Linked DNA regions of Homo sapiens: all the other regions are linked to region 3. Evidence: fine-mapped expression QTL. A gene starts in region 3. Each other region holds a variant in brackets. All regions are shown on one strand. Distances are from middle to middle. Region 1 has its middle 26 kb from the start of APPL2. Region 2 overlaps WASHC4 (WASH complex subunit 4). Region 3 holds the start of APPL2 (adaptor protein, phosphotyrosine interacting with PH domain and leucine zipper 2).

Region 1 (2,857 bases), 26 kb before region 3:
GATTTCACCTGTAGCAGGAGTTGCCAGCTGGTTGACAGAGACCTTTCTGCCTGTGTTAGTGTTTCGTGTCTTATTCAGTTGATCTTCAAATGGGTAGCTGCCACCATATTCCTTTTCCTACTGATTTCCAGGATTCCCAGCTAGGCAGAATCTGAGTGGTCCAACTCTCAATCTGTACACTGCTCTTAGGGCCCCAGAGAGCCACAAATAGACTGCAAAGCTGTCAGCCAGCCCCTAGGTTGTGCCCAAATTCTGTCTGGCCTGTGTGTATGTCGGCGTGTGGAGAGGTTGCTCTGCATTCCCCAGATACCCAAAGAGATCCCTAAGCCACAGAAACATTAAATCCACTGCTCATCTGCATGAGAAAAATGCAATGAGGGAGAACCCCTGACAAACAACTCTACTTGCAAAAGTAACACCTGGGATCATATCGAGTCCACATAAAATGCTTACAACTATCATATAGATTTTGGAGATGAATGTTAAGTGCTCGACAAATATTTGTTAAATGAATAAATGAGAAATTATCCAGCTCCCCATCCCCTGCATATTTCATGGTTGAGAAAACTGAAGCCCAGATGGGTTCCATATTTTGCCCAAAGTGACATATTTAGAATGTGGCAATGTTGAGCCTCAAGCCAAGATCTTTCAACTTCAATAACTGAACTCTCCACTTCAGTACACATCAGATTAAAGAACATATTAAGGAATATTTGCCACAAACGTAAATATCTTACTGGGATATTAGAATGCAATAATGGTAATAGCTAACATTTCCCTAGTACTCACAATGTGCCAGCCAATCACTTCATCCTCTCAGTAACCTCATGAGGTAGGCACTCTCATTACCCCCAATTTACAACGACGCCCCTGAGGCACAGAGTGGGTAAGTCAGTTATCCAACGTCACACAGAGTGGCAGTGGCAGTAGTCAAACCTTGGATCTGCATGCTCAATGCCACCCAGCCCCTCAGACTGAGTTTGTTACTTTGCAACCTCTTATACTGGAAACCTGGGCACAGCTTGGGTACAGGAAGACCCTAGCCAGGAGGTTGATGGGTTCTTAGCAGTCAAAAACAAAAGTTCCCAGGATGTGAAAGTCCAAAACACTGAGAAAACCCTACCTGACTTGTGAAATGAAAACCCTTTCCTTAAGAATGTAAAAGCAGAGGGAATTAACAGTACAAGTAAAAGGATAGAGAAAAAGCATTAAGCTCTCTAGAATACAAAACCAGTGGGCAATAAGACGTTTTACAAATTGAAGATGGCAGTTATTTATGTCTGTGAGACTTTT[G/A]TGGCATTTTCTTGACAGTCACATAATGAAATTATTTCAAAATGGGCCCTTCAAGTTTATTAGCATTAAAAAAAAACCCCTCCCCAACATGGAACAAAGAAGCCTAAAGCGGCTGCTACTTTTACATCATTTTATTTTGCCCTTATTTTTCCTGCTGAGAGTAGCATATTTTGTATACGGACCTTGTATTTTTCTCTTGTATGTACTCCAAGTTTCTCCGAGGCTCCCAAAGCAACCCCTGGAAGGTACATGTCACATGCTGGATGGTACATGTCACATGTCGCAGACTCAGCTGTACTACAGATGGCTGGATAGGTTTTCTCTTCTTCCCTGGATTCTGATGAACTAGAGTTACTTTGTTTTCTTTTAGGAAGCAATGCCTTCAAAATATTTTGCATCCAGTTTTGACATATGATGGCTTCCATATTTATAATTTTAGTTTTGTAACAGCACTGTCCCTGTTGTTTAAATTGTTATCCAAAGGCATGATGAAAGACATCAAGACTTGTCACAGTCAACTCTAAGTTTTCTCAGGTTGTACATGTGAGCTTATATGTACATTGGAGCAAAATAGAAAACAAAGTGTAATTTGAAACCTTATATGTACGTAGTGTAGGAAATAACTATATAGTTATATATATGCAAAAGTCCATATGCAAAAGAGGTTTAGTAACTGAGGGAACCAAACGTTCATAGGAATGAGAAAATCTGAGCTGCTTCTATAATAATGCCCCATGGCTTTGCTAGGCTACTTAACTTCATAGTTTCATTTCCCCATTTGTAATACTAAACTAGGTGAGATTGCTTTTATTGCCATTATTAAAGCTGTTTTTCAGGATCTCTGGTTACTCTCCTAATGAGATTTTTAGAGTTATTTTAGCATAAATTTCATATCAGGCATACATTAGCTTATTCCACAGTACAGTATGTTTAACCTGTTTCTAAAAATGGGACCCTCTGCCCATTAACCTTATGCTAGATTTGTTCTTCAACAGGAAAAGTATCCAATATTTCAGAGGAAAAATTTGGACTATAGCAATAAATGGCCTAGCCATGTTTTACTATTGAAATTAAAAAATAACCATTGTATTCCATTCTTTTTTTTCTGGTTCCTTGGGTGCACATAGATGGGAGGAGGCAAAGTACTTTCCCTCTCCATTTTTTCCTAATTCTTTGCTTGAATCCACATATTTGAGCCAAGAACCTCTTGCCTATAGCTGGGAATGCACCCAGCAGTTGATTTTTGGCTTGTATCTGCTTGTTTCTAAGAAAGTCCTCTTTATTCACCAAGGTCCCAAACAAAAGCTGTTCTCTGTTAGACCTTTCCAGACCATCCACCGTGACCCTCCAGAAAGTCACTCATCCCTTCCCCCATATCCAATAATACTTTGAAACTACCACTGGTACAGCACAGAAGCCATTATACCACTTTTATTTAGGGAAGAACTGTTCCTTATTTATCTTTGCATTCCCAATGCCTAGATTTATTGCATATGTATCAGTGTCAGGCATAATGCTAAGTCATGTTATTATTGACTGAAAAGAATACAGTGAGGTTTTAGGG
Region 2 (2,857 bases), 110 kb after region 3:
ACACAATAAGAGATAAAAAATAAGGACGTATACAAAAAATAAGGATGTAAAAAAAAGAAGAAACAAAGAGTTAAAAGTGTGCCTTTGGAGAGCAAGACTGAAATACAGGAAGGAACTGGGAAGAATTATCTTTCCCTTTAAGCTTTAGCACTTTTTGATGTTTTATATACATGCATATACTATTTTCATAAAAATAAAAAGAAGGGGGAAAAAGGAAGCACATCAAGAAAAACTCAACCTCTCCCAAAATCACCATGGACACAGAATGTTTTTAATGTCATCAAATGATATCTACTGCAACAAAATCTGAGACTTCATTTGGACAAAAAATATTTAACACAGATGATAAAAACTATGTATGTACGCATTTGTATCCATAAAGTATAATCTGTCTACATCTTAAATTGACTTTAAGTGTAAAATATTCTTTACAAAAAACTTCTAGAAAACAAATCTCCTGGAGATTGCCTGACCCTTACTTATCAAGTACATTTAATCTTATAATTCAAATGGTACTATACATTAAGTGTTAGTATAATCTTTGAAAATAAAGGATATCTAAATATTTTCATTATACTTGTTTATAAAACCTACTTGGTAAGTGATTGAGCTTTCTGTTGTAGAAAAGTATCCCTGTGTATTTTAATGGCTTGAAGACTTTTTCTGTCTAGCAGTTTGGCAGCTGCTGGTATTTTCTGGATCAGAAAATTATCAGGAAACCAAATAATATTAGCAGTTAGAGTGATGGCTGGTACCTGAAACAGAAAAGGGAAAAGGGGAAAATTCATTAAATGCAGGCTAAACAACAAGCTGTTTAAAAGTTCTATAATACACATGGAAGACAACTGATTTCAAGAAAAAATAACCACAAAAAATACTTATTAATATATTATGAGACAAATATCTTTCACTGTGGCAGAGTTAAGGCATTTCTACATCTGGTGTTGAGCATGACAATTTTATTCACCTGAATATTAAATAACACACACACAAAACACCCTTTCATGGACTGTCAGATAAAAAAATGCAACAATAGAAACTTGAATCTTCATGTCTTTTAGTTTCATTCTATTTAAGTACATAAGTTTTTTAAAAAATTGGCTGGGTTATCATAGTTACTATCACTTGATGTTACACACAAACTAATCTTTCAATTTTGAAATCAGATACCACATTATGAAAATAGCAAAGACATAGAAAGAAATATATTTTAAATTTCTTCATCTTCAGTAATGAAAATCAGTGGCAAAGAAAAGGAAAAGAAAAAAGTAGTATTAGTAGCACTAAGAGAAGTTGTACAGGAACAAATCTGAACACCATCTACCAATATGTAGTAATATGATGTAGAAATACGACGTATTTTCATTCACTAAGTTACTTATTTCTGGAATACTTGAATTTTACAAGTGAATACTTTTAAATTATTTTTGTAAACAGGAATAAAATGCATTTTAAAATATTTAGTTTTATCTGCAATCTTTTTAATCTGCTCAAATTGAAAAATAAGTTTCAAGTTCTTACCTTCTTACAAATGTCCAATAAAGACTTATAAAACTTTTTATCAATAGTTCGAAAAATCTGAAAGTGCAATA[C/A]AAAGAGTCCACAAATTCCAACATACTTGTCTCTCTGGTCAATTTCAGAAGGTTCTCCTTACAAATCAATAACATAAGAGAAAGCAGAACAAATATACTTCAATTATGCTTTTAAGGAAATGCAAATTTTATAAACAAAAACCAAAAAATGCGATTTACATTACCAAGTTTGGCTTCTACATTTGCAAAAATTGACCGAATACTATGTGCAAATTCCTCAGCAAAAGTACTATTTTTTGACACAGATACTCCTCCATTGAGAGAATCAAATTGTTGTTCTATACAGGCCTAGACAGGAAACATTGAAAGAGAAATTCAGACTCTCAATAATAAACGATTAAACATTTAAATATCATACACTAAATACAGTGTATGATAAATTTCTATATTCATCATTTAAATTTTACTAAAACTAAAGCTCAGGTTCTTAATCTAATCTAATATTTAGATCTTTGTGAATGAAAAATATATATGTATTTATATATTTGGGTACTAGTTATGTGAAAGTAATAAAATTGAACCCAAATCTATAATCCTGTATAAAGAGATACACACGATGTTCAGAGATGTATAAAAGATAAAGCATATTTTTTATTTTACTTTGCACTTTTAAGAGTAGAATTTATGTTTTCTGCTTACAATTACTTTCCTAGCACTTTATTATAGCATGTATAGAAATGTCTCCTGGAAAAAGAATCAATAACAAAAAAATTATCTTCTTAACCTAATGAACTAACATTTAAATTGATATATAGTTGACGCTTAAACATAAAGTTAGGGACACTGACCCTCGTGCAGTCAAAAATCTTCATATAACTTTTGTCTACCCAAAAACTTAACTAGTAATAGCACACTGTTGACCAAAAGCCTTATGGATAACATAAGTCAATTAACACATAAATAGATTAGTATCTACATATATTTTATGCATTCATGACATACCTAACTTTTCCTCAAGTTTTTTTAATATTTCTAGGCTATGCCATTTGTCTGCAAGTTTTTTTCAAAAGTGTTGCTAATGTTCAAAAAATTTTCTAATACATTTATTGAAAAACAATCTGTATATAAGTGGACCCGTGCACACTTCAAAAGCATGTTATTCAAAGGGTCAACTGTAAACAAGAGTTGAGATCAATCGGTTAAAAACTGTGATCATGTAAAACATAAACTAAAGGTAACCTTGAAGTATATTATAAATGGAATATAATGCAATTTCGAGTGGAACCTGCTTAAAGCAGCGCTCTCCAACAGAACTTTCTGTGATG
Region 3 (2,500 bases):
TGGAGGCCATAAAATGGTTCAGGTCAGGTTGGCGCTGGCCAGACCAAGGGAATAATGGCCTTGGAGTTTTCAAGTGATCAGGCAGCATGCTACTATACTAGACTGTCAGAGGTGTCAGCAATGCAGATTGGGTCTTGATATACCTAAGAGGTCTCTGCAGAATGCAGAATTTATATATTACCATATCCCCTCTGTTGATTTTGGTGACACACATACTGCATGATTTTTTTTTTTTTTTTTGAGACGGAGTCTTGCTCTGTTGCCCAGGCTGGAGTGCAGTGGTGCCCTCTCGGCTCACTGAAACCTCTGCCTCCCGGGTTCAAGTGATTCTTCTGCCTCAGCCTCCCGAGTAGCTGGGATTACAGGCGCATGCCACCACGCCCGGCTAATTTTTGTATTTTTAGTAGAGACGGGGTTTCAGCATCTTGGCCAGACTGGTCTTGAACTCCTGACCTCGTGATCCACCCATCTCGGCCTCCCAAAGTGCTGGGATTACAGGCGTGAACCACCACGCCCGGCCAGTCTTATTAACTTCTAAAGAAGGAACTTCAGAAACCCTTGCCTTCCGTGTAAAAAGGTGTCACGTTCCACTTGCCAGTCTTCTTCCATCCCTCTCCCTTCCTTCTTTTCTTCCTCTGGCGTTTACTAACTGACCCTGGGCAGACCACTTATTTCTCTGGGTCCCATTTTCTCATCTCTAAATGACAACACTGGAACCTAGATTATCTAGCCCTTCCAATTCTAAACATTTGATTATGAAATTCTCCAAAATCACAAAACATAAACCAGGAGGACGAGACCTAATTATGACCACATCAAATAGCTGTGGTTTCCAAAGTGGTTATTTCTGATTATCACAGACGAGTCAGTTATCCAGCTTTTCTCCTCTTTTCTTTGTTCCCATAGCATAGGCGACCTCTTTGCTCTCAGAGCTGTTTCAGGGGCGTCGAAATTTATCTAGAAAAAGTGGTGTGGGAAGTGTGGGTTTTTCCTTCCATTAAAAGAAAAAATCTGTTCGCTCCTTCAACTCAAAAGGCTTTCTGGGTAGCCATAAGCAGATAAAACCTTATCTTTCTACCCTCGAGTTCCTCTTTTGGACTTCATATGCATTGACTTGACGGACCTTCAGCACAGAGAACAAACACCCGAAGGGTTCCCTCAGCAACGGGACTGGCACCCAGAGCCCCCCGCTCCCCGCGAGCCGGCGAGCGCAGGCGGAAGCGCGGGCGCCACATTTCCGGTGTCGGGACCGGAGCTCACCACACTTCCGGTTTCCCTGCCGGGCGCGCCACACTTCCTGTTGATCCGGCTCGGCCGGGGGCTGGGCCGGCGGGCAGGCGGCGGCGGCCACTGGCCAGGCGTGGACGCGCGCGGGGCCGCCGCGGGCACGGAGTGGCCGCCGCGTCGCCTGAGCCCAGAGCCGGGGAGTGCTCTCGGCCGCCGCGTCTCCTGCCCTCTGTCCTTCCAACCCAGCCCTCGGCTGAGCCGCGCCGCACCATGCCCGCCGTGGACAAGCTCCTGCTAGAGGAGGCGTTGCAGGACAGCCCCCAGGTACCTCCCGCCGCTCCGGTGCCCCTCGCCCGCAGGGGTGAGGCCGAGGAGGCCCCTCCAGCCCCGGAGTGGAGGCCGCGCCCCCGGCCGGGCAGCCGCGGGAGTGCGCCCGGCCCCCTCGCGGCGCCTCCCACCGGGTTCTCTCGGGCTGAGGAGGGGGCGGGCCGGGCCCTGAGTCCTGAGCCGGGGCAGAGCTGTGGAACAGGGGAGAGAGCCCCGCGGCCGGAGTCTTGATGTCGTGACCCCCCTGCAAGCTCAGCTGCAACTGAGTCTGCGAGATCTAAACTTTGATTCCATGTAGTAGCTGAGTGCCTCAGGAAAACCACCTTATTGTGCCTTAGTTTTGTCGTCTGTAAAATAGGAATAATAATTGTGCCTGCTTCATAGGGTTGTTAGGAGAAGTCAATGAGAAATACCTGTAAAGTTGTCAGCAGACAATGTCCGGTACAGATAATGAGTCAGTCTTATTACTGCTACTCCTAATGATGTGATGAGACTTGTGCCAGCCAGAATGAGAGGCAGAGGGCCTGGATCTCTTTTCCGGCGGTACCAGGCCTCCTTTTGGCACCGTTTTCCCATTAGTGAAGAGAAAAATACAGTACCTGCCCCATTTGTCGCACAAGGGAACTTCATTAGCACACTCGAGATGAGAGTCAAGTCCTTTGAGCTCTGCAGATGAAAACTGGTGTGTAAATATAGCAAATGAGTGCAGGATGACATTAGTTCATAATTCAGCACATCTTTCCCCAGGGGTCTTTTGTTCTCCTTTGTTTAACATTTCTCCAGCTTCGTACCTACACTCCTGGTTCAGCATCCCGGGTTTATTTAAATAAGTGCCTTTATTTCCTAGTGTCTCAACTCTTGAAAACTTAGAATAAGATTAACCTATTTTCGTTTCACACTTTCCCCTCTCTTTTGGGGTTCCTTCCCTTTTTCTTCTAAGTGAATA

The links. PIP is the estimated chance that this variant, and not a neighbour inherited with it, causes the effect. A credible set is the group of variants that fine-mapping cannot tell apart.
Region 1: its variant is the best candidate, but not a certain one, in a credible set for the expression of APPL2 in esophagus muscle (GTEx, PIP 0.57).
Region 2: its variant is the best candidate, but not a certain one, in a credible set for the expression of APPL2 in whole blood (INTERVAL, PIP 0.89).

What each region holds. Positions count from the first base shown.
Region 1 is chr12:105,260,391-105,263,247 of GRCh38, reverse strand. No RefSeq gene overlaps it. Among named protein-coding and RNA genes, the nearest start is that of APPL2, 26 kb to the right of the region's middle. RefSeq lists a silencer at 951-1,125. The variant G/A (reference allele first, on the strand shown) is at 1,294.
Region 2 is chr12:105,125,027-105,127,883 of GRCh38, reverse strand. WASHC4 (WASH complex subunit 4) reads right to left here. Exons shown (of 33, transcript NM_015275.3): 11 at 1,757-1,880; 12 at 1,522-1,649; 13 at 595-755. Among named protein-coding and RNA genes, the nearest start is that of WASHC4, 19 kb to the right of the region's middle. The variant C/A (reference allele first, on the strand shown) is at 1,593.
Region 3 is chr12:105,235,010-105,237,509 of GRCh38, reverse strand. It overlaps APPL2 (adaptor protein, phosphotyrosine interacting with PH domain and leucine zipper 2), which reads left to right and starts at 1,336. Exons shown (of 21, transcript NM_018171.5): 1 at 1,336-1,551. The coding sequence starts at 1,498. RefSeq lists an enhancer at 953-1,453 and silencers at 1,318-1,457, 1,508-1,757.